Homo sapiens: one gene and its partners. The protein of the gene in region 1 purifies or fractionates together with the protein of each later gene. This does not show direct contact. Each region holds a gene or a part of one and is shown in the gene's direction. Other genes may lie near its edges. The genes, in order: COPB2, RTN4, RUFY1, NBAS, ZDHHC3, SEPTIN3 and MCM8.

Region 1 (3,500 bases):
GTTGTTAGGACTACATGCGTGTGCCTTCATGCCCAGCTAATTTTTTACTTTTTACTTTTTTGTAGAGACAAGGTCTTGCTGTGTTGTCCAGGTTGGTCTTGAGCTCTTGGGCTCAAGTGATAACTTCCATCTCGGCCTCCTAAAGTGCTGGGATTACAGGTGTGAGCCACCACACCCAGCAACTTTTAATATATCTTACTAAATCTACTTTCATGAGCTGTATATTAAATCTATAATAAAATAATTTCATAACATCTAGATTCCTGGGCGTCACTGTGGATTGACTGACTTATAATCTCTAGAGATAAAGCCTGGAAATTGGCACTTCTTTTAAAGAACGCCATAGTGATTTTGCTCCCTGAAAATTCAAGTAAAATGAGAAAGAACAAAAACCAAACAGGATAAAAAATAAAATTTGATAGCTCTTCTCTCCTGGGCTTTGGCATTTTACATAATGTGTCAGAAATATGGTGGATTTGCCTTTTGTAAAGCAAGGCCCCATATTGACTGGCCGATGCTGTTTCTCTCTGCAGGTGTGGCAGTTGGGCTCTTCGTCACCAAACTTCACTTTGGAAGGACATGAGAAAGGCGTGAATTGCATTGATTACTACAGTGGTGGGGACAAGCCATACCTCATTTCAGGTGCAGATGACCGTCTTGTTAAAATATGGGATTATCAGGTACAGTTTTTCATAACCTTACTTCCATATGTTAGATATGTTTCTTACTATTTCTTATAGGACAGTTAAGACTTGGGTTGTTGAAAACTGTTCACAGCATAATAACTTAAGGTATCAGTATTTGCACCTAAACTGTGTTCCCAGAATTCTCCATAAAAATGAAAACAATGCATATCAAGATTTTAAAAATAAAATACCAACATGTTCATATTTCATTTCATAATTGCATTTAGAAATTTTAACATTTTAATGTTGAATTATCCTCCATAATCTTCATTGATAGACTTCTATTCATTTTTGTAAGCTAGCAGATCAACAATTACCAACCATTTTGCCAAATCGTACTCTTGTAAACCTAGTTATGAATTCTTGTTAACATGCTTCCTATCTCTAAGATTTTCTTATATTTTGATATTTTTGTTTTCCACATCAAAAGTTCCCATAAGCAATTAATAAAATGAGGTCTAGAAAGTCAGTTTTTCCTTGAAACATTTTCAGATTTGTACTTAAATCCAGAATAAAAATATTAAAGGCTAAAGCAGCACTGTCTACTTAGCCAGTGATGGTAGGTGTGAGTTTTAAGGGGGAAATCTATTATCCTGAGAATTTGGGGGAATAATATTCAGACAAAAGCCTTCTTGGGTTTTTTTCCCCTTCTTTAAATGTGATAGTTACATTTACATTTATTTTACAAAGTAATTAGATAAAATATTCATATATACAACAAGATCATCCTATTTCAAAAATTTCTATATTGGATATTATTTAGATTTTCATGACTACTATCATTTATAATGTATCTGTACACTGAGAAAATTAAGGGCGGGCTGGTTACATGTTTTTCATTAATAAAACATGTTTTCTATGTCTTAATTACAGAATAAAACATGTGTGCAGACACTGGAAGGACATGCCCAAAATGTGTCTTGTGCCAGCTTTCATCCTGAGTTGCCAATCATTATCACAGGTTCAGAAGATGGTAAGTTAGAAGGGTATGTTTATTCCTGTGCTAGTAACTACTCAGTGGGCATTTAAAGCAAGTAATGTCTCTGCATTATAATTGTAGGTTTCCAAGGATTTTGATATTTTTATTAAAGTACCAGACTTAAGCTATAAAAGAGTAAAGGGGCATTATTTTCATCATCATCATCATCATCATCATCATCATCGTCATCATTCTCATGTATTTTGATTCTGTCACTTAAATAAGAGGACCGTCAGCTGTCCTAAAGAGAAACTGAAAAAGCATGTGCTTTGGAGTCAAACAAACCTGGGTTCAAAATCAGGCTCTGTTATGTCATGAATGTGTGTTTGGGCAAATTATGAAATGGAAACATATATATCTGCTTCATAAAATTATAGTGAGAAGAAATTGTGGGTAGAAAGCATCTGGCACATAGGAAACACTTTACCCAGGAAATCCTGTTATTATTTCATGTTTAAAATCGTAATTCTTAGTTTTTGTTTCTTATATGTTATGTGTTATGTTTATGTTGCTTTTAAAAATCATTTAAAGACAGTAGGTCAAAAAATTGGTCATTAAGCTGCCAGGAAGTGTTATCTGTTTGAATAGAAAGACTTCTATGGGTCTCTTTCACCTGACACAGTTTATTGTCGGATGTTTGTATCAAAAGGGAGTATTTACATTGTTCTTTTTAGGAACAGTACGTATTTGGCATTCAAGCACCTACCGGCTTGAGAGCACACTGAATTATGGAATGGAGAGGGTATGGTGCGTGGCCAGTCTAAGAGGGTCAAACAATGTCGCTTTGGGCTATGATGAAGGGAGCATCATTGTTAAGGTAATTATACTATCCCTCTCAGTAGGTGGACATAGGCAAAACCATTTTCTTTGTATTTTAGTACTGTCATCTTCCAAGTAACCAGTTTTATAAAACTGGCACTTCTTTCATTAAGCACTAGACATTAAGCAATGAAGATTTAAAGTGGAAGAAAGGAAATGGAGCTCTCTGTTAGGTGAAAAAAATAATCTGTTTTGTTTTGGTTTTATTCATTTTCCTTTTCATTGCTGAGAGCTATTTTTCTTTCTTTCAGCTTGGTCGGGAGGAACCTGCCATGTCCATGGATGCCAATGGAAAGATAATTTGGGCCAAGCATTCAGAAGTCCAGCAGGCCAACCTAAAAGCAATGGGAGATGCTGAAATTAAAGATGGTGAAAGATTGCCACTGGCAGTAAAGGATATGGGCAGTTGTGAAATATACCCTCAGACTATTCAGCACAATCCTAATGGGCGGTAAGCCATCACCAAAATTGTCCCTCAGCTTCTGTGTATGTTAGAACAGGTTTGCAGATCCACAGTCCACTCTTGCCCTGTGGTTGGCATCTCTAATCATTCCTCAATGTGCTTTTGCCCTGGCCTCACAATCCTCAACACAGCTGCAGTCAGCCATGCCACTTGATCAAGTTGGCACAAAAGATGGAGCATGTTTCCCATCTGGACTTGTTCTATACCACACAATTTTGAATAGTTAAATAGTAGTTTCCTGTTATTTCGCATGCATTGAGTTTGTGTTTTTGTGTGCTCCTTTGAGGGCAAGGAGTATGTCTTATGCTGAGACTTAGTAGGTGCCCTCTCTAAATGCTTGCTGACTCATTGCTCTTTCAAGAAGAAAACCTGACTCTGAGATATGTGTCTTTTGAAAAAGTTTTGGGATTGATAATAATTCTGTTTCTTATTTGTAATTCGAACTGTCAGTTGAATTTCTCCCTTAAGATTTGTAAGTCACCAAACATCTTGTGAGAGAGGAGTTTCTAGCACAGTGAAGTCTAAACCTGTGGAGCTTTAAAATTATTTTACA
Region 2 (3,500 bases), on another chromosome or scaffold:
CAGGCGTGAGCCACCACACCCAGCCTAAATATATTTTTATTTTTATTTTTATTTTATTTTATTTTTGAGGTGGAGTCTTGCTCTGTAGCCCAGGCTGGAGTGCAGTGGCGCAATCTTGGCTCACTGCAACCTCCACCTCCTAGGTTCCAGCAATTCTCCTGCCTCAGCCTCCCGAGTAGCTGGGACCACAGGCATGTGCCACCACACCTGGCTAATTTTTGTATTCTTAGTAGAGACGGGGTTTCACCATGTTGGCCAGGCTGGTCTTGAACTCCTGACCTCAGGTGACCCACCTGCCTCGGTGTCCCACAATTCTGGGATTACAGGTGTGAGCCACTGCTCCCAGCCTTATTTTTATTTTTTTAAAGATGGGGTCTTACTATGTTGGCCAGGTTGGTCTTGAACTCCTGGGCTCAAGCAGTTCTCCCACCTCGACTTCTGAAAGTGTTGAAATTACAGGTGTGAGCCACTGTGCCCCGCCATTTATTTTCATAATATACCTTCAAGCAACTTATTAGAATAACTTGATTCAAAGCCTCAATTTAATGGTTCCTTTTTAAGGTACTTTGCTAGCCCAGGATAAAAGTATAAACTGAATGGCTATTTCTTGATTCTTCCCTGGAACCCTTAAATAAATAGAAGTAAATGTTGCAGATATACTATACTTATGGTACATTCTTTGAGACTTTTTGTTCCTGTTTCTAAAGGGATCAGGTTCTTCTGAGGATGACAGCACTAGGGATGGGAACTGTAATGGTAAAACCATAGTTCTCAGTAGTGTTTGAATGAATGTGACCTTTGTGGATAGCTAGTGCAGGACATAGGTATGCAAAATGATGAGACCCAGCTTTACTGATGCTAAGATTTTCTCAGACTAATGCCATCATCATCCTTTTTAACCCCAAAGGAGGAGTTGATAATTTCATATTTAAGCTATTGATATTTATGTTTCTTGGAATGATGATCATTGATTTTTAAGTTGCTTTCATCACGTGTTTCCATAATATTCTGTTCTTACCTCTTCATAGTATATATCATTCTATATAAGGTAATGGTATGGTTACTGATTTCTTTCCTCCACCAGACAGTGTACTCCTTGAGGAAAGGTGCTGTGACCTTTTTCTTTGAGGAAAAGGACTGTATGCATTGTGTCTGCATTGCAGTGCCTTAGATGTGATAGGCACTCAGTTTGTTGAATGAGAAAGATGCTGATCTTCATATTCTGTATAGTTCTAGAATTACTATAATATCTTCTCTCAATAAAAATCCCAAATCTTACGAAAGCATTTATTTATTTATGTATACAAGGTAACAATTCCAAACAGTACTACAAGAATACACAGAAAAGTAACTCTTTCTACCTGTTACCCAGATTTCCACAAATTGTCTTCTGTAGATCCACCCTCTGTTAGTAGTTTCTTGAGTATCTGTTTAGAGATAATCTGTGGATAAATATTTATTTATACATGTATATCCTTTTCACTTTATTTTCCACAAAAATAGATGCAGAGGACTCTGGGGATGTACCATATTTTATTTAATCAGTCCCTTATTGATGGTTATTTAGGTTGATACTTAGTTTTTTCTCTTACAAATACTATTTCTGTGAACACTCTTGTATACACTTCTTTGGGAATACATGCCATTATATATGTTGTAGGATAAATCTGTGCAAGTAGAATTACTGCTTCAAAGGATATTTGCATTTAAAATGTTGGTAGCTAATGCCAAAGTGTCATTCAAAGAATGGTTCCAACCTTTATTCCCACCAACCTGTTAAGGTACCTTTTCCCTTATATCTTTACCAACACAGTATATTAGTGAACTAATACATTGTTTAGCAAATTGTTCTTTTAAATTTGAGTCATTTTTCATAGGCTTAGGTGTCAAATTTTTTCTGATCACAGCTTTTGCCTATTCTTTTGGGTTTTTGGTCTCATGTATGTAGATTCACTTAATCTGCATTGTAAGGAAACTAGCCTTTTGTCATATGTCTTGAAAACTTTTTATTGATTTGTTATTTGTATTTTGACCATATGGTATGTTTTTCTGTTTAGAAATTTTTATGTAGTCAGATTTATCATTTTCTTTTATGACTTTGAGTCATAAAAGTGAAAAAAGTCATTGAGTTTTATGTAATCCTTAGAAAATCCTTCTTGAGGATCATAAAAATTTTCCCCCATGTTTACTCCTAGTAAGTACTTTTATACTTTTTATGATTTCATTTTAACATTTAATTATTTGATTTATTTGCAGTTTGTTTTGTTCTAGAGAGTGAAGTAGTGAAATAATTTTATATTTCAAGATTATTTCCCATTTGTTCCAATACCTTTTATTTTGAATTATCCTTCTTAACCACTTTGAAGTACCATTTTTGTCATATTCTTGTAGTATGGGTGAAATATTTCCTCTGCTTTTCCATTTATCTGTCAGTTCACACAGAAGTATCAGACTGTTGTGCTATAATTTTTAAATACTAGCTAAACGGCTTTTCCATAAATATTTTTCTTGGCTATCTTATGTGTGTATAATTTTCTACTTCATCTTAAAATTTTTTTTATCTTGTCCCCTCTCCCTCTGTTGGAGTTTTAGTAGGTTGCATTACATTTATGGATTAATTTTGGGGAGAATTGAAATACATTCGGTGTTGATATTGTGTATTTTTCCATAAACACGTGGTTTTTATTAACATGTATTTAAAAAAAATTTAGCATATAATTAGGTGAACTAGAGACTTTTAAAAATAAATATTCTAGCCTCCTTGTAACATACTGAATTATACAGGTATTTGGCTCTCTCTTTTCAATTGATAATTGACTGAGAAAGAAAGCTAAGTCTTCCTGCTTTTTCATTTCCAAAAAAAAAAAAAAATTGTGTTGAGAAAGAAAGAAATATTCTCTGTACTCTTGTATTAGGAGCTATAGCTGCCAAATACTGGATTTTTTTTTTTTAAAGCAGTCTCTTTACATAGGTGGCCCTCTACTTTTCAAAAATAATTATTTCTTTAATAGCTTGTTTTTCTCATTGATGGAATTGTTACCACAGATACAGAAAGTTTATAAAGTTTTGTTGTTCAAGAGTTTGGAGTTGCTGCTTATATTGGTGGTCTCTTGGAAGTTCAATATTAAGAAAAAAATTAATATATTCCTTTTTTTTTTTAACTAGGCCTAGGGCTGAGTAAGAGGACAAGAAAGATGAATAGAGGTTGTACTTATGAGAGGTATAGGTAGCAGATGAAGGAAAAAATACAGGCCCTTAGTTGTAAAGAATTTTCTGCTCTTAAAACCAGAGGAGTTTTGTGATTGGCCTTACAGGACATATTTACAGATCTGTGAACTGCTTTTGTGGAAAGAGAGAAGCTTACTTAAGGATTCCAGGTCTGCCTACGTGTTCTTTCTCCCCAACTTTGTAGGTTGATTTATAAACTCGCCTAAATGGAAGGTGCCATTATTGAGTTCATTTATCTCAGTGCCCTGACAACCGTAGATGGAGGTGACCTA
Region 3 (3,500 bases), on another chromosome or scaffold:
GAACAGTGTCCTCACCCGTGTGCAAGGGGCCTGGGGAGGGAGCGACCGGTGAGCAGAGGCTCCAGTGAGTTATGCCCTGCAAAGCACCTCTTGGGTGGAGACTGCAGGAGCAGACAGCAGTGTGAGGAGCAAAGAGGCGGCCTCAGGCGGCAGGCAGGAGGAAGCCCTTCATGGGCCCTGGGAGCCAGGGGAAGGAACGTGGGTTTTATTTTACCAGAGTGGGCAGCTGGTGGAGGGACAGGATCCGTTCTGTTTGCGGATGGTCATTGGCTCCTGTGTGGAGAGTGGGTGGTAGGCTCGCAGGAGAGGAAGCTGGGAGGAACCAGTAAACATCTCCTACCACATGCCAGCCTCACCTCAGCCACTGTGCCCAGGGTCGGGTCATCCCTGGGAAGCAGACCGACCCCAGCCCTCCACTTCCCCTACATCACCTCAGTTCCATGGAGGACCCTCTCACTTGGAGGCATGGCCTGGATGCTGTGGGCTTCAGAGGGCGAGAGAAGTGGGGTCCAGCAGGCCTTCACTGTCTGGCTGTGGAACTGGACCTCCCAGGAAACTCCGAGGCCGTGTGGAACATTTGCCCTAATGTAAAATCATCGGCTGTTTTCCCAGAGGGGAGGAGGCTCTGCGATCCTGGATGGAGCTGACTGCAGCCTGGGGCGCTCTGGGGGGCTCCTCCCACGTGGGGATGGCGTGCCCTCTTCTCAGGCCCCTGCGCTGCCGAGCGCTGCAGGAAAACTGAGCCCAAAGCAGACCTCCCCTCGGCACCTGCCCCGGAGGGGCCTTCAGGGCCAGGGTGGCTTCTGGACCTGGATTTTGTTGTGTTGAACGTGGTAATGGACACACTGCACGATTCGAGCGAGTCAGGAAAGGCCCTTTTGATTTCCATTGGAAAGTGCCTGGAGTTGTTGGGGAAGGGAGAGCTTCCTCAAGAGCCAGATCAGGCTTGGAGAGTGGAAGGGAGGAAGTGGAGGGCAGAAGAGGACTTTCAGAAAGTCCCGCCTCATCACGGGGCATACCTCCTTTATTCTGCTTCAGAATGCTTCTGTCAAAAGATTCGAATTACACAATTACAGCCCGCCCCAACAATAGGAACAAAACAATGTCTAATAACCCCAGTTAAGCCACAGCTTTGTGCTTTGCAAGCCTGTGCATGGAAGCAGAAGCTACGGCACAGGGTGTGCAGAGAGCCACCCCGCCACTCGGGCCCGAGCTCCACCGCTGCTCCCAGTGGTCCCAGAAACCCCAGTTACTTTCTGGGTCTCCATCCTGGCCTTAACAGACTGGCTCAAGGTGCACTGGCCCCAGGTGTCAGTGCCGTTGCCCCCTGGGGAACTCCCTCCGTGCAGGGCTCCTCACATGGTCTAGCCAGCCTCCAAGTGGTCTAGCCATGAAATGAGGTCCCAGGTCACCCCCTTCATCATCCTTGACCAGTGCTTTCCAAAAAAGCAGCTTTTTCAGAATTGAACAGGAAACCACCTTTCAAACTAGTCTTTGCTGATGCAAGGTTCGTGTGATTTTGTGTACAGTTCTTCTATAGATTTTTTGAGATAGCAATCTGTTTTGTAAAATGTTTATCTTTTAAAAAGAAGCTCAAATAGGCAAAGCCTCATTTGTCCTATGATGGTAACTTTTTTTTTTTTTTTTTTTTTTTTTTTTTTGAGACGGAGTCTTGCTCTGTTGCCCAGGCTGGAGTGCAGTGGTGTGATCTCGGCTCACTGCAACCTCCGCCTCCCCAGTTCAAGCGATTCTCCTGCCTCAGCCTCCCGAGTAGTTGGGATTGCAGGCATGTGCCACCATGCCCTGCTAATTTTTGTATTTTTAACTAAAGGAGGGGTTTTGCCATGTTGGCCAGGCTGGTCTTGAATGCCTGACCTCAGGTGATCCGCCCACCTCAGCCTCCCAGTGCTGGGATTACAGGTGTGAGCCACTGCGCCCAGCTGAGGGTAACTATTTTTAATGTGGCTGATGAATGTAACTATCCTGTCCCATGTCTCTGTCCCCAGCTGCAGAGCCCTCGTCGAGTGCTTGCCTTTTAGCTGCCCAGTGTCAAGAGTAAGCTAGCAAGAAATAATCTTGAATGACATTAATACAGGACTGCATTTTGCTCTTTTTTTTGGTTTTGTTTTGTTTGAGATGGAGTCTTGCTCTGTCGCCCAGGCTGGAGTACAGTAGCACCATCTCGGCTCACTGCAACCTCCGCCTCCCGGGTTCAAGCAGTTCTCTTGCCTCAGCCTCCCAAGTAGCTGGGATTACAGGTGCCTGCCACCACACCCAGCTAATTTCTGTATTTTTAGTGGAGACAGGGTTGCACCATGTTGGCCGGGTTGGCCTCAAACTCCTGACCTCAGGTGATCCACCTGTCTTGGCCTCCCAAAGTGCTGGAAGTATAGGCATAAGCCACTGTGCCTGGCCACCTTTTGCTCTTGAAAAACATTCTGATCTGCTTGTTGCTCTGGTTGCTGAATCTTTTTTTTTTTTTTAAAGGCCAGTGCAGTGGCTCACGCCTGTAATCCCAGCACTTTGGGAGGCCGAGGCGGGCAGATCACGAGGTCAGGAGTTTGAGACCATCCTGGCCAACATGGTGAAACCCCGTCTCTACTGAAAATACAAAAATTAGCAGGGCATGGTGGCGGGCACCTGTAGTCCCAGCTACTTGGGAGGCTGAGGCAGGAGAATCGCTTGAACCCAGGAGGCGGAGGTTGCAGTGAGCCAAGATCGTGCCACTGCACTCCAGCCTGGCAACAGAGCAAGACCCTGTCTCAAAAAAAAAAAAAAAAAAAAAAAAAAGGACCGTGTAATCCTCTGTCCAGCATCTGGTTGGTTTGTTCATTTTAGGAGTTGCGGGAGCTTCAGGACGAGAAGGCAGAGCTGCAGAAGATCTGCGAGGAGCAGGAACAAGCCCTCCAGGAAATGGGCCTGCACCTCAGCCAGTAAGAACCCCACTCCCCTTGTCTGCCACTGCAGGCACACCAGGCTACCCACCACATCCCTCAGGCCCCAAACCTACCTCCTTTTGGCGAACGGAGGGTGGGCCATTTAGGAGCTCAGTCCGCCGTTCACGGATGAGCTCTCAGGAAGCCCGGCCTCAGAGGGGCCCAGCACTGATCTCTGCTACCCACATGGGGTGTCAGCGAGCTCTTAGTTAATTCAGGAAGCACGTTCATTCCTAGTGACCAGGACACTCCTATTCCTTAGCTTCATATCCAGGGCCTGAGGGAACAGATGGGCAATGAGAGGATCGCTTGGTCAGCCTACAGTCAGGCCAGAGGGAGCAGGGCTGGTTTGGGAACGGAAGCCTGGCACAGTAGAGGTGCACTCACCCGCCTTGCACAGCACAGCCCCCTTCCTTTCGGGGAACTGGCCACTGCATCCGCCAGAGTCTGTCTGTCTCTGCTGCAGGTGCTGATGGGGTGCAGACCCTGGTAGTTCTGCTCCCCTCTGACTTGACAGCTCTCCTCCTTGGTGTCCCAGTCTAGATAGGTTGCTGTGGACGCCTG
Region 4 (3,500 bases), on another chromosome or scaffold:
TTCAATTTAGTGTGAGATTAAACTTGCCCCCAAACGATCTCGTTTGGAGACTAGAGCTGGAGAAGAAGATGAAGGAGAAGAGGATTCTGATTCTGATTATGAAATATCTGCCAAGGCTCGCTACTTTGGTTATATAAAACAGGGCCTTTACTTGGTGACTGAAATGGAGCGATTTGCACCACCACGGAAACGCCCACGAACCATTACTAAAAACTACCGCCTTGTGAGTTTGCGCTCCACGACACCAGAGGAACTTTATCAGAGGAAGGTGAGAGAGTAGCATATTACTACCCAAGTTTGAAGTCATCAAGCTTTTCTTTTATTGAGAAAAAGTTAATTTTTTAATAAAGGAGAAAATTTCAAGAGGGATGTTGGATCATTGACATGTTAAAAATATCAGTTCTATAAAGCTTTTTAAAATAATGCTAATCTTTGTACCTAAATAATCAAAATCAAAACCATGGATAAAAATTGAATTCACTTAGACTGATTATCCACTTGGTGGCTTAGCTCATTTCTTTGCTACCCTTCATGTGGCCTTCAGCTCTCCCTTTATCTGTGTTTAAATCAGCCATCTACAGAGGGTGAAGGAAGAAGTTCAGACTTGCTTTCTAGTCCAGGGCTTGCTTGGGAAGCCGAGGTGACCAGCACTGTGTGTTCACGTGATTTGTGCTGTTCTTGCAATGTCGTGGTAGGAGCTCTGGACTAGAAGCCGGGTTGTTCCATGGTTGTCTTGGTTTTGCCGCTGTTTTACTCTAAAACGAGAGCTTTGCACCTTTTATCTCTCATCTTTCTGTTGAAGTGCTGAAAGAAACACGAGATCTTTCTGCTCCTCAAAATATCTGTGAGCTTCTGGTGCCACAGTGCACAGGAATTAGTGACATGCTGGATAAGTCCAAGGGATTATCATCATTCATTGTATCATCATCAGGACCCTGTGGATAATTCAGTCATGTAACATTCCTGTCCTCGTGTTTTTATCTGAAGATTGAAAGTGAAGAGTATGAGGAAGCCTTGTCCTTGGCTCATACCTACGGCCTGGATACTGACCTTGTATATCAGAGGCAGTGGAGGAAGTCAGCGGTCAACGTTGCTTCAATTCAGAATTATTTGGTATGTTTAAATATTTTGGTAATGTGGTAAAATGTATATTCATGTAATATCTTTTGTTTATAGGGCTTCATTTTAGAGTACTTTACATTGCTGACTTTTCTATAATACAGCCAATGAAGTACAATTTTCTCAGCTGGAAAAATGGTCTTTTTGTTAGATTTTATTGCCCCTGCAACTGGACTTTGATGCTGAATACATGTGAACAAATATTCACAGATAAACCAGCTAACTACTTGGTCTCGGCCTAACGTTTTCTTTCCTGTACCACAATCACTTCTCTTTACCTGCATGAGTCAAGAGCTAGTCAGATGCCAGAAATCACACAGTAATTTAAACAGGGAAATTTACAATATGGAGAATTATTTTCTAGTAACCAGAGATGAACTATAAAGGATGTGAAGAGAACGCTAAGGACTACCCTAGGGCTGAAGGGACATATCCATGAAGGGAATGAACTTGGAAGGGAGGCCCCTCCCCTAGGCTGGGATTCAGACCCATTGGACCAGGAGTGGTTGCAGCATGTAGGATGGAAGAGAAGTTCTCTGGGTTGCCTTGAGCCAGGGCTGGTCCACGGTTGCCAAGGTTGGCAGTCAGGGAGATATGGGATGGATAGGAAAGCTGGACGCCTGCTTCTGGGGGGGGCCAGTGAGCTGAGGTTGGGGTTTAGAAGACCCCAGGGACTAGGAAGCAGGAAACCCCTACCAGCATGCATGTGGCTCAAGGCTGGTAGATAATTAAGGAATCATGGCCAAGACTGGCAAGAAAAAACTGTCTACTCCTATAGGCAGCCTTACTGTAGCTTCCAGTCTGGGAAGCTTCCCTCTCAGGTGCCTGGGTGATTCACTAGAAAACAATCTGCCCATGAGAGTGTCACTGAAACTCAGTGGGAGGTTGTCAACAGAGGGAGGAAGCGGGGAAGTAAGTGCCACTTGATGTTGCCCACGTGCCTTGTTGGTGGCCAAGCCATAGGAGCAAGAAGAAAAGAACCAAAGCACATCAGGACTAGAAAGCAGAGCCTCTTCCTTTGCAGTGGCCCTCCAGCACCCAGAGCTTAAAATCGTGTCAACCACAAATGAGATATGCTACCACAGAGCTGGCTTTGAGGGGAAATTTGGAGCTGAGAGGCAATAAATAGGTAACATATATGAAAACTGCGAAATATGCCTTTTTAAAACTTAAATCTCAAAACTGGATACTTCCTGTTACCTGCCTCCCATAGTTAAGGTTAATATAGTCTTGTCTCAATTAGTTTTAGCCGCTGCAACAAAAATATCAGACTATGTGGTTTCAACAGCAGAAATTTATTTCTCTTAGTTCTAGAGGCTGGGAAGTGCAAAATCAAGGTGTTAGCCAATTTCGTTCCTGGTGAGGGCACTCTCCTGGTTTGCAGATGGATTTCTTTCTTGCTGTGTCCTTATATGGCAGACAGCAGAGAGAGAGAAAGAAGGCTCTCTACTGCCTCCTCTTATGAGGACACCAATCCTATCATGGGGCCTCCACTCTCATGACCTAATTGCTTTCTAAAGGTCTCATTTCCAAACATCATCACTCTGGGGATTAGTTTTTCAACATATGGATTTTGGGGGACATATTGATTTCATAGCAAGCCTATATGTTTTAACCTTTGGCATCTTTGTAAGAAAGAATTATAGTTAGACTCATGGCATACTTTTAAAAAGGTTGAGACTTCTGATCTTAACATATAGAAAGGAAAATACCTTTGCATTGTGGAAGATTATAGGAAACACTGGGAAAATTTCATGATGATTATTTCCCTAAAAGTTTTATACGTTAGTAATTAAAAGTAAAAATATAACATGAAAAAGTTGTATGGAAGAAGATGATGCATCAGCCAAACAGGATGATAAACCTAACATTAATACAAGCAAGATATCAGAGGTGAAAGAGCATGAGAGGTAATGAAACGGAAGAAGATAAAGTTGCTTGTATTTTCTTTAGAAAATCAAAACACTAATTCTGTATTATTTTTCTTTCTTGTTTTGTGATCTAAGACAATGAGCTCATGAGTTCATGTATATCTTTTTCTGGGATACAGTAAAGGACAGTTTTTGTCTCTGAGGGAGTTGAGGGATGTTAAGAGAGACAAAGCAAGTACTTTTTTGGGGAGGGGAATATTTCGTTTAGTTAAATAGACAGTTAAGAGCAAGAGCACTATGCTAGGGACTGTGAAGGGGTACAGGACAGGCATAAATGTGGCTTTTGCTCATAGGGAGCTTATGATTTTTTTTGTTTTGTTTTGAGATGGAGTTTTGCTTTTTTTTGCCCAGGCTGGATTGCAATGGTGCGATCTCGGCTCACTGCAGCTTCTGCCTCCCTGGTTCAAGTGATTCTCCCGCCTCAGCCTCCCAAGTAGCTTGGGACTACAG
Region 5 (3,500 bases), about 94 Mb from region 1:
GTTCCTACTTGTAGGGAGCCAGAAAGTTTAATCCCTCAATTTTTGTTTTAAGTATATAGATTATCCTTATCTCTAAGCCAAGGGGAGATCATTGCACCTGATTTCAAGTTTGTTAAACCAGTCTGTATACAGCTATTTCATACAGGCTCCAATGGTTGAATTAATTGCCCTTTGTTGATGCTACTTTGTACCGTCTCAAGATGTGTGCTGTTCACGAGTGCATGAATGTTCATGTGGATGTGAGAATGTGGGTGGATGCGGTGTTTTAGAAAAGTAATCCTCACAAAGTACTTTGAGGTGCTTCCAAAGATTTGGTTTTAGATCTGGCTGAACTACTCCATGACTTTAGTGTGGGATCTTGTCTTATAAAAGCAGGTGAATAGGACTTGTTGGCAATCTGAGAGGATGGGGGTCCTTGGTACACTTGCTGGACTGAGAACAGTGGCATTTTGGGACTCTAATACATTCAGTAGAGAACTTTATGTTTGATGTGACAATCATGCTTTGACCCTGTCCATAAAGCATGGACTGTGGGTCAGGGTTTTGTTTTGGGTTTTTTTGCCACATGATAAAGATTAGTAGGGATTTGCCCCTCACTCAACAAATGATGTAGCTGGATTCTGCCCATCACTAGCAGTCAACACTTGGCCAGGCCAGTTCATCCTGGCCAACCCGATGAAGTGCCACAGTGGGATGGGGCCTGAGAGCTTGGCATTAGCACCACGATGTTCAAACCCTTTGAGCTGCCTACCATGGAGAGACAGCATGGGGACTGAGGCATAAGTGGTATACCCCAAGGCTGACTCAGCAACCCAGTCCCTGGGGCTCATGGAGCCCCAGACTCCACTTCACTAAGTATATTTGTGTCTGTCAGTGTGGGTTAGTGGAAGAGCACACTTATGATAAGGTATAATGAAGCACGTGTGTTATGTATGGATCTGGAGGCAATTCTCTGGACCACAGGCAGTTTTTGTTGTTGCTTTTAGAATAGCACTAATTTCAGGCATTTCTTGGTTTTGGTTTCTAGAACTCTATGAAGGAATACTAGCTGATTTCCTTTGACTTCCCACACACTGCCCCTCACAGAGCTCAGATCATCATTTTGACACCACATCTTATCAGGATTGCTGGCACTAGGGAGCTCCAGAACACCTCTGGGCCTGTGGATCCGTTTCCCCTGTGACTTCCTTACCCCCGCCCCTCCCCAGGCTTAGTTCCTTTGCCTTTCTGGGCTTCAGTGAACTCTTCTATCAGGTGAAAATAATAATTACTTTGAACATGGAATACTAATATATGGAGGCGCTAACTCTTTTTAATGCTATAAAACCCTTAGCCAAAAAACTTCAATATAGATTACTATAATTCAAGTTACAAAATGATCATTGTTCTAGATCTTCCTTGGAAAACTATTAGCCACTTAGAGGAACAGAAAACCTAATACCACCAAAATGAGACTCAGGCCTGTTGCCCTTGTGCCTCCCTGGACTTGTCGGCCTCTGGACGCAGACCTCTCATCTGTCTTGCCTGTCACTTCTAGAGTGGTCTTGCCACAGCATGAGTACTATTCCTGCACAACTTTCCTCAGAAACTTTATGGCTCACCAGTACCTTTCAGGATGAAATCCCATCTCATTATGAAGTTTAGAGGCTTTCTAAAACACAACTTTCTCCTACCTATAAAGCCTCATCTCGAATCACCTCCTCTCTTTCCTACAAAGCCTGCATCTGTCCACAGACACGCACACAGCCCTGGTCATCCTGCCCCTCCTCTTCCCCACTAGTACCACCAATTTTCCTGCCAGGCCCACCCGGCCCCCCTTGCCTTTTTGTAAGCAGTATGCTTCACTTGGCTCCAGGTGCTGCTCAGAGCCCACCCCTTCAGAAGTCCTTGCCATGAAAAAGTCTATTTATTTCACTTATGGTTGTTGGGGTTTTGTTGCTTTTGGTGTTCGGGTTTTTCTGGTACTATTTGTCCCTTTTTTGTGCTATTCATTAGTCACCTATGTGTTAGCATTATTGTGGGTGTGTCTGCTTGATATATGTGACCAGTCACTCAGGAATTATTGATTTGAGCACATATACCAAACACTAGGCTACAGAGCTAAATAAAATGAGACTTGCAGGTTGGTGGAAAAAAAGCAAATAAGACTAGTGTTATTAGGTTGGGAGCTGGGGGAGGGAACTGGCAGGGCCTGAGCAGGGCAGCACACACACATTATTGTCCACATCATCCCTCGTGTGTGAGCCCCCTGCACAGCTCCTTGCATTTAGTGGCTGCTCCATGAATGTCTTTTTGAGTTGAACTGAATAAAGAGAGGAGTTTTTAGAGACCAAATAGGGCAAGGGGCCGGGGTGAAGGAGACAGGGAGGGGGAACTAGAGGAGGCTGCCCTTCTGAGAGCATGTGCTGGCAGATGTGGTTTGGGGCTTAGGGCCCATCTTCGGGGCCCTGTCCCAGAAGCCTGAGTAACCAGTTCTGCCCAGCTCCTTGGAAGTAAGGACACTTGTAGGGAGGTGGGTCCTTGGCAGAGGTCTACTGCTCAACCCTAAGGATTGGAGTTTCTCTAATTCAAAATAGAAAAGGAAAAGGGGGTCCATATTTGCCTTTTTTGTTTTTGTTAGGGGTAGGATAAAGGGAACATATACAGTTTGTTTCGTGGTGGGTTTTTTTTTTTTGCCATATTTCTCAGATTTTCAGTTGGCTAATTTAAGGAACAAATCTTTTCTTGAAAGCTACTTTTGTTGCTTTTGGGAGGTCTGGGGGTTAAGCAACCTTTTTATAGCAGTATGCCTTTCTTGGTTTTGATGGGGATATTTTGAAACTCTAAGTGTGGAATGTGCCCTTCAGGTCAGGACTTGGTGTCTGGCCCTGCCAGGTACACCTTTGGCTTGGTCCTTTCCTAGATCACAGGTTCTCGCTCACCAGTGAGGGTCATGGGAAAACAGAGCTCCTCTGTACACTCTTTGGTCCCACGTTGTTTGAAGATAGAACATTCCGGTTACTTGAGTAAGAGTCAGTCCACTTACCTCATGGTCCTACTTGACACACTCTCCACCATGCAGAATATGGTCACAGTCCTGAAACTAAGCAGACAGTGCCTCTAAGAAGTGGGCCTGGGATCACAAATCTCATGCATTCATTTAATCAACACATGTATTAAGTGGCTACTCTGTGCCAGCCACTGGGCTAATAAGTCCTCCTCTCAAGGACTATATGGTGAAGAGCTTAGCAGTTGTTCCCTGAAGGCCTATTACCCAAAATGACTACCCTTTTGCAAATAAATCTAACAAGACTTAGTTTATTTGCTTTTCTAGCCCACAGCCAATTAGCAGTAGTAAATAGAGGATATGTGGGTATGACTGGTGACCGTAGACACAGAAATGAGTAGGCAGGAATGGAGGAGGAAGACAAAGGATCATATACAGAGATGCCAGAACGGCAATTATAACAGTCTGAGCAAGCCAGTTGATGTGAAGCCGAGACCCAGTGAATTTCAGTAGC
Region 6 (3,500 bases), on another chromosome or scaffold:
ATGGAGTTCGAGACCATCTTGGTCAACACAGTGAAACCCTGTCTCTTTTTTTGTTTGTTTGTTGTTTGTTTTTTTGAGACGGAGTCTTGCTTTGTCGCCCAGGCTGGAGTGCAGTGGTGCGATCTCGGCTCACTGCAAGCTCCACCTCCCGGGTTCACGCCATTCTCCTGCCTCAGCCTCCTGAGTAGCTGGGACTACAGGCACCCGCCACCACGCCCGGCTAATTTTTTTTGTATTTTTAGTAGAGATGGGGTTTCACTGTGTTAGCCAGGATGGTCTTGATCTCCTGAGCTCGTGATCCGCCTGCCTTGGCCTCCCAAACTGCTGGGATAACAGGCGTGAGCAACCACGCCCGGCCCGAAACCCTGTCTCTTAAAAAAAAAATTAGCTGGGTATGATGGTGCATATCTGTAGTCCTAGCTATTGGGGAGGCTGAGGCGACAGCATCACTTGAGCTGGGGAGTTCGAGGCTACAGTGAGCTGTGATTGCACCACTGCACTCTAGCCTGGGTGACAGAGTGAGACCCTGTCTCTTAAAAAAAATAAAAGAAGAAGAAAAAGAAATGAGTAGAGAGGGTATTCCAGATTCCAGGTACAGGGAACAGCATAAGCCATGATATCGAGATGGAAAAGACCCTAAATTTGACTTTTCCAATAACTGATCCTGAAGACAAGGCCTGGGTCTCCCTGGCTAGTAGGCTGCCAGGTACCTGGGGTCAGCTGTAGGACTGACCTCTCTGGTACATTTTCTTTTCACCCCCAGTGATAGAGGAAGGCGGTGTCAAAATGAAGCTGACCGTCATCGACACCCCAGGCTTTGGAGACCAAATCAACAATGAAAACTGGTATCTGTCTGCCTCTGAGATCTTTGCCCTAAAGACTCTGCTGGGAAGATACTTACTATGGTGCAGATTCATTCACGTTGAGAACCATCTGCACCCTCCATGCTCTGTAGTTCCCGACAGCCCAGGCCAGGGCCCCTGGGGAGCTCCACCCCTGCTAACTAACCATCCAGGAAAGCCATCGGTGCGGGGGCTGAGGGGGAATCTGGCAGCAGGTATCCTAGGCCCACCAACCAGGGAATGACATGAATGTAAGGAGATTGCTACCAGATCATGCCTAAGCTGAGCCCTAGGTCTTGTTCTTCTGATGCATCTATCTACTTTCCCTCCCCATCAGCTGGGAGCCCATTGAGAAGTACATCAATGAGCAGTACGAGAAGTTCCTGAAGGAGGAGGTCAACATCGCCAGGAAGAAACGCATCCCTGACACTCGTGTCCACTGCTGCCTTTACTTCATCTCTCCCACAGGACACTCGTATGTACCAACCCTACCCCTATTGTCAGGCCTGGTCTGGTTTGTATCATCTGTGCCCATCTGGATTGGATGATCCATACGTTGACTCAGCTAGGCCTCCCTAGCTGAGTCCTAGCCCTTCCAGCCAGATGGGTTGGTACATAGTCATGGCCCATGACCTTGGGATTCCCTAGACTTTCCACGAGGAAGTTTGACTTTCTTGCTAGGAGGTTAAAGCTGTCCAACATCAGCCACCAATATCTGCCCACTGGTGTCCCAGCAGCATGGCACAACTGTATCAGCAAAGAGGACTTGGTGAATGTGAGCAGAGGGCACTTCATTTATTCACCAAATACCTGCTTTGGAAAATAATTGGAGTCGGAGGGAGCAGCAAGAAGGGTGAAATAGGGCAGTGCAGGGCTCCTGGATTGGGGCTGGTGTTTGGAGGGTAGGGACCCAGTTGTAGGCATTTAGAAGGTACCAGCCTGGAGTGAGGCATTGTGTGTTCAGAGATGAAGGCCAACCATTGTCATGAAGTACTATCTGATAGGCAGAATAAGACACACACAAGCATGTTGGGAACTCTGATTGTGAGTGACAGGTGGGCCCCATGAAGGAAGTGCTGGGAACAGGCAGAGGATGGAGATCCTAGGGGGCAGGCCAGAAACCTTCCTGCAGAGACCGGGGGAGGGGGGTCCCATAACATTACTAAGCCCAGCTGCTGGGCCAGAGTTAAGCTCTTCAGAGGATGGCACAAGCAAGGTAAGCCCCAAATTTTCTAGGAACCAGGCAGTGATGGTAGGGGGAGAAGAGAGATGAAACAAGACCCCTGGGCTAGACCCAGGAACTCAACAGAAGGCTGGTTTTATCCCTCCCTAGGCTTCGACCCCCTGGTCAGAATGAACCATCAGACAGACTGACTTAGTGAGTCCCTGAGATTGCAAAATAGAGCCAAGTTGGGGTCTCAGAGCCTGAGGTAGGATGGGGGCATAGACTGTCAGATTGTGGGAAGGGCAAGGCCTCCAGTTTGGCCCTGCAGGACTAACTCTGGGGGCTAGGAGGAGACCTGTCAAGAAGTAGTCTGATAGGCAGAACAAGATGTACACACTAGGCACGGTGGCTCTCGCCTATAATCCCAGCACTTTGGGAAGCCGAGGCAGGAAGATTGCTTGAGTCCAGGAGTTCAAGACCAGCGTGGGCAACATGGCAAGACATTGTCTCTACACAAAATTTAAAAATTAGCCAGACATGGTAGTGCGCAACTGTGGTCCCAGCTCCTCTGGAGGCTGAGGTGGGAGGATTGCTTGAGCCCTGGAGGTCAAGGCTGCAGTGAGCCAATGACCATATCACTGCACTCCAGCCTGGGTGACAAAGTGAGACCCTGTCTCAAAAAAAAAAAAAAAAAAAAAGACACACACAGTGTTGTTTTTTTTTGGTTGTTGTTGTTTGTTTTTTGTTTTTGAGACAGACAAAAAAGGAAAAAAGACACACACGCACAAGGACATATGAGTAGAGACAGTAGTCCACAGATGCTCCCAGGAGAAAGAAATCCCTGAGTCAGAAAAGATGTCCTGAAGTGGTGGTTTGAGGGGGGCTTAAAGAGAGGCAGAATCTGCAAGGGGACTGAAAAAGAAAAAGGCAGGTGTTGAGGCTGCTCTACAGACGGCAAGGCAGTGGGGCTGTGTCGGAGACGAGAGGTAGCAGCCTCTTGGCCTCAGCCAGATGCCCAGCCCAGTCCTCTTCTCCTGTGGGTGTCCTGGAGTGGTGGTGGTGGCTGAGTTGGGGAGGGCAAGGTGGCTCTGATGATTCTGCCTTTTCTGTGCCCCAGCTTGCGACCTCTGGATCTTGAGTTCATGAAACACCTCAGCAAGGTTGTGAACATCATCCCTGTCATTGCTAAGGCTGACACCATGACCCTGGAGGAGAAGTCTGAATTCAAGCAAAGGGTGAGAAGGCCCCCTGTCTTCTTTTCCTGTTCCCATCCCCTCCTTTCTCTCCGCTGGGTTCAGGCCATCTCCTAGCCCTCATCATTCTGCCTTCACCCCCACCCTCAACCCTCCCCCAATTCTCCACCCCAGCCCCCTTCTTAACCATTCAAGAGGCTGAGGTTGGTGGTATCTGGGGACTATGATGAAGAAAAGATGGCACAGCTCTGGGCTGCCTTCTTCCCACCCTCCAAACCTACCTGTGAAGACCACTGAATA
Region 7 (3,500 bases), on another chromosome or scaffold:
TTTAGTAGAGACGGGGTTTCACCGTGTTAGCTAGGATGGTCTTGATCTCCTGACCTCGTTATCCGCCCGCCTCGGCCTCCCAAAGTGCTAGGATTCCAGACGTGAGCCACCGCACCCAGCCGCATACTTTTTTTTTTTAGGAAAACTAGACGTTTGAGGTCCAGGACCCTCCCTGCCCCATACCAGGCATGCAGTAGTCATTTTGTGAATGAATAGAGTACTTTACAAATGTTTTCTTTATTGGAAATCTGTTCGTTTTTTTCCATCAATAGAATCTGTTTCATGAATGATCTTTTGTTCCTTTAGGATGTATTAGCCACCAGCACTCCCATTGCTCCCCTAGCAGATAGCTCAGAACACTATAAGTGATCTTTGGACAGTCCTAAAGATGGAGTTCAAGAGGTGCCTTAGCCTTCACCATCTGTGCTTCCAAACTACTTTATTGTACTGTTCTTCTGTGAGAGACATATTTGAAAATGTAGAACTTTAGAGTGTTAAAAAAAAAAAGGCTTTTCAGTTTTGCCACCAGGGTCAAGTGTTGGTCTGTCTCCTGATCTCAGGAAAGACTGTGATTGTGATTGTCTTCAGCTCTGTCAGAGTAAGAGCTTAGTTTATGTGTCTGGCTTTGGCTTTATTATAATTTTTAGTTTAAGCTTATTGTCTAAATTATCTGAACTAACATGTCCTATTAGGTGTCAAAGATGCAAAACAAAGTTTCCCAGATAGTGGGGCTTTTAGAGAGAGAGAGTTTCTGTCTGCATTTCACATTATGCAAACCTAAATTTGTTTTAGAATCTTAAGTTTACATTCTATACTAGTTCTTATATGAATGTAATCAAAATACAAAGCAATTAGAAAAAAATCATCTACCATGTATATAGTGCTGCTTTTGTCTCATGAAAAATGTGCATGTACCTGTGTGATTATTTGTGCTAATGCCATATTTGTTGGATTAGTTTACAGCGATAGCTCTCCTTTGATTGAGAAGATTCAAGCATTTGAAAAATTTTTCACAAGGCATATTGATTTGTATGACAAGGTAAGATTCCTCTACAGCAAAGCTACCAGTCATGTGCCATCTTACCAATGTATTCGAGGTACTTGTGATTATGATCGTAGGCACTGGAGTCAGACTTCCTTGGTTCAGACCTCAGTTCTGCCACTTACCTGCAGTATGGACTTTGATTAATTACTTCTCTGTGCCTCAGTTTTCTTTCATTTGGAGATAGAGGTATAAATACCTACCTCAAAGGATTGTTAAGAGGCAGTAATACATTAATATATTTAAAATATCAGAACCATGCTTGGCACAAAGCTTATACTTATGTCATACTTACCATTATCACATATAAACATTGTATGCTTTCTCAAAGTCTATAATAGAATGCTCAGTTAATGGTAATTGACTACAGAAAAGCAATTATTGTTTTCATACTTTTATATTTTATAGGATGAAATAGAAAGAAAGGGAAGTATTTTGGTAGATTTTAAAGAACTGACAGAAGGTGGTGAAGTAACTAACTTGATACCAGATATAGCAACTGAACTAAGAGATGCACCTGAGAAAACCTTGGCTTGCATGGGTTTGGCAATACATCAGGTAACTATTTGTCTTATGCATACTTTTGTCTAAACTTTTTTAATGTTTGCACACACATGCACACCTTGTCTAAGTTTAAAGGAAGATTTTACAGTGACTGTACTTTCTATAAGAGATACTTAGCTTTTACGAAAAGATGTTGGCTAGAACTGAGAGGTTGCAGTTCCGTTCTGAAAGATACCATTCATTCTATATACAACAGCTTATCTAAATGAAATATTTACCTCCAACTTATTTGGATTTGCTTAATCTTGCTAAAGATTGTGCAGAAATTAAACTTTGCTTTCAAGAAGTTATACAATCTCATAGGGAAGATAAAACAAGGAATCATGGTGTTATCGGTTATGAACTTAGAGCAAAAAAGAGCAACCTTAGATTTAGGTTCTGTGGCATGAAGCAAACCACTGAGTGTCCCTGTATATCAAATGTAAATAACAGTTTGTACTGTGCTTGCCTGAGTTTTTTTTCAGGGTCAGGTAATACAACATATATGAAAACATTTTTAACTTTTTAAATTTTTTAAATTTATTTTTTATTTATTTTTTTGAGATGGAGTTTCACTTTGTTGCCAGGCTGGAGTGCAGTGTCATGATCTCCGCTCACTGCAACCTCTGCCTCCCGGGTTCAAGTGATTCTCTTGCCTCAGCCTCCCGAGTGGCTGGGTGCACCACCATGCCCAGCTAAGTTTTGGAGTTTTAGTAGAGACGGGGTTTCACGATGTTGGCCAGGATGGTCTTGATCTCTTGATCTTGTGATCCGCCTGCCTTGGCTTCCTAAAGTGCTAGGATTACAGGCATGAGCCACCTTGCCCGGCCAAAAACATTTTTTAGGCTAGCAAACAGATACATGCTTCAAGGTAATGAATAGCAAATCTCAGGACAGGCATACACAAAGTGCTGGGGCATTCAGAGGGGCATTCTTCTACCTCTTGCCTGTGCTGTCCATTCAACATAGAATCCCCTTCCCTTCACATGGACAGATTATTTGGGCCTAGCTCAGTTGTCTGTCTGTAAAACCTTTCTCATGACCACTTTTCGAAACTTGCATGGTATTTTGTCTGTACATCTTTATGGTCCTTATGACAATTACAGCTGTATATATGCATCTTATTTTGCCTCTTAGGTTGCCAGCAAACTGCTGTGTACAAGTGGTATTAAATGTTTGTTTGTTGTTTATTTATTTATTTATTTTGAAATGGAGTTTTGCTCTTGTTGCCCAGGCTGGAGTGCAATGGTGTGATCTTGCCTCATTGCAGCCTCAGCCTCCCAAGTAGCTGGGATTATAGGCATGCACTGCCACACTTGGCTAATTTTTGTATTTTTAGTAGAGATGGGGTTTCACCATGTTGGTCGGGCTGGTCTCAAACTCCTGACCTCAGGGGATCCACCCACTTTGGCCTCCCAAAGTGCTGGGATAACAGGTGTGAGCCACTGCGCCCAGCGTGTTTATATTATTTAATGTTAAATGCCAAGGGAGTGAGTATTAGGTATTTTAAAGGTCATTTTTATTTTCTGTGTCTTGATTGGTCAGTGAATATAGAGAAATAGGAATGCATTTTTTTTTTTTTAATTAGTATCAAGAGGTGATGGTTTTGGGGACTAATGTAAGGGCTTTTAATGTTAGGTTTAGTTGGGACAGAAAGTAGCAGACTGGGATGCTGGAGTTTTTCAGCACAGGGACAGCAAAATCCAATGTAAAACATCCACTATAAAGTAAGTAGTCATAATTAAATATTAGATATTTAAAGGGCTGTTAAAGTTTTCTGTTTTTATTCTGTTTCTGTCCATAAACTTTATATTCTCTATAAAAATAGAGTTCTGTATAAAGAGGATGTTTTGTTTTCCAACTTCAGAGTAAATGTCTGTCCTGTTTAGGTGTTAACTAAGGACCTTGAAAGGCA

What was found.
Region 2: the proteins of COPB2 (region 1) and RTN4 purify together in Homo sapiens (affinity purification with mass spectrometry; one large-scale study listed by BioGRID and IntAct). This does not show direct contact.
Region 3: the proteins of COPB2 (region 1) and RUFY1 purify together in Homo sapiens (affinity purification with mass spectrometry; 2 studies listed by BioGRID, with this or other methods). This does not show direct contact.
Region 4: the proteins of COPB2 (region 1) and NBAS purify together in Homo sapiens (co-immunoprecipitation; 2 studies listed by BioGRID and IntAct, with this or other methods). This does not show direct contact.
Region 5: the proteins of COPB2 (region 1) and ZDHHC3 purify together in Homo sapiens (affinity purification with mass spectrometry; one large-scale study listed by BioGRID and IntAct). This does not show direct contact.
Region 6: the proteins of COPB2 (region 1) and SEPTIN3 purify together in Homo sapiens (affinity purification with mass spectrometry; one large-scale study listed by BioGRID and IntAct). This does not show direct contact.
Region 7: the proteins of COPB2 (region 1) and MCM8 purify together in Homo sapiens (affinity purification with mass spectrometry; one large-scale study listed by BioGRID and IntAct). This does not show direct contact.

The regions. Positions count from the first base shown.
Region 1 is NC_000003.12:139,372,648-139,376,147, reverse strand, and holds part of COPB2 (coatomer subunit beta'), read left to right. Parts: intron 1-533; coding exon 534-680; intron 681-1,559; coding exon 1,560-1,659; intron 1,660-2,339; coding exon 2,340-2,482; intron 2,483-2,735; coding exon 2,736-2,935; intron 2,936-3,500. UniProt on the Homo sapiens protein: The coatomer is a cytosolic protein complex that binds to dilysine motifs and reversibly associates with Golgi non-clathrin-coated vesicles, which further mediate biosynthetic protein transport from the ER, via the Golgi up to the trans Golgi network.
Region 2 is NC_000002.12:55,040,452-55,043,951, reverse strand, and holds part of RTN4 (reticulon-4), read left to right. Parts: intron 1-3,500. UniProt on the Homo sapiens protein: Required to induce the formation and stabilization of endoplasmic reticulum (ER) tubules. They regulate membrane morphogenesis in the ER by promoting tubular ER production.
Region 3 is NC_000005.10:179,599,054-179,602,553, forward strand, and holds part of RUFY1 (RUN and FYVE domain-containing protein 1), read left to right. Parts: intron 1-214; exon of another isoform or gene 215-336; intron 337-431; exon of another isoform or gene 432-582; intron 583-1,019; exon of another isoform or gene 1,020-1,045; intron 1,046-2,838; coding exon 2,839-2,933; intron 2,934-3,010; exon of another isoform or gene 3,011-3,213; intron 3,214-3,323; exon of another isoform or gene 3,324-3,500. UniProt on the Homo sapiens protein: Activating adapter involved in cargo sorting from early/recycling endosomes. Regulates retrieval of proteins from endosomes to the trans-Golgi network through interaction with the dynein-dynactin complex.
Region 4 is NC_000002.12:15,470,835-15,474,334, reverse strand, and holds part of NBAS (NBAS subunit of NRZ tethering complex), read left to right. Parts: intron 1-10; coding exon 11-268; intron 269-987; coding exon 988-1,113; intron 1,114-3,500. UniProt on the Homo sapiens protein: Involved in Golgi-to-endoplasmic reticulum (ER) retrograde transport; the function is proposed to depend on its association in the NRZ complex which is believed to play a role in SNARE assembly at the ER. Required for normal embryonic development.
Region 5 is NC_000003.12:44,962,675-44,966,174, reverse strand, and holds part of ZDHHC3 (palmitoyltransferase ZDHHC3), read left to right. Parts: intron 1-3,500. UniProt on the Homo sapiens protein: Golgi-localized palmitoyltransferase that catalyzes the addition of palmitate onto various protein substrates.
Region 6 is NC_000022.11:41,986,443-41,989,942, forward strand, and holds part of SEPTIN3 (neuronal-specific septin-3), read left to right. Parts: intron 1-763; coding exon 764-845; intron 846-1,179; coding exon 1,180-1,317; intron 1,318-3,124; coding exon 3,125-3,242; intron 3,243-3,500. UniProt on the Homo sapiens protein: Filament-forming cytoskeletal GTPase. May play a role in cytokinesis.
Region 7 is NC_000020.11:5,953,652-5,957,151, forward strand, and holds part of MCM8 (DNA helicase MCM8), read left to right. Parts: intron 1-956; coding exon 957-1,039; intron 1,040-1,450; coding exon 1,451-1,600; intron 1,601-3,474; coding exon 3,475-3,500. UniProt on the Homo sapiens protein: Component of the MCM8-MCM9 complex, a complex involved in the repair of double-stranded DNA breaks (DBSs) and DNA interstrand cross-links (ICLs) by homologous recombination (HR).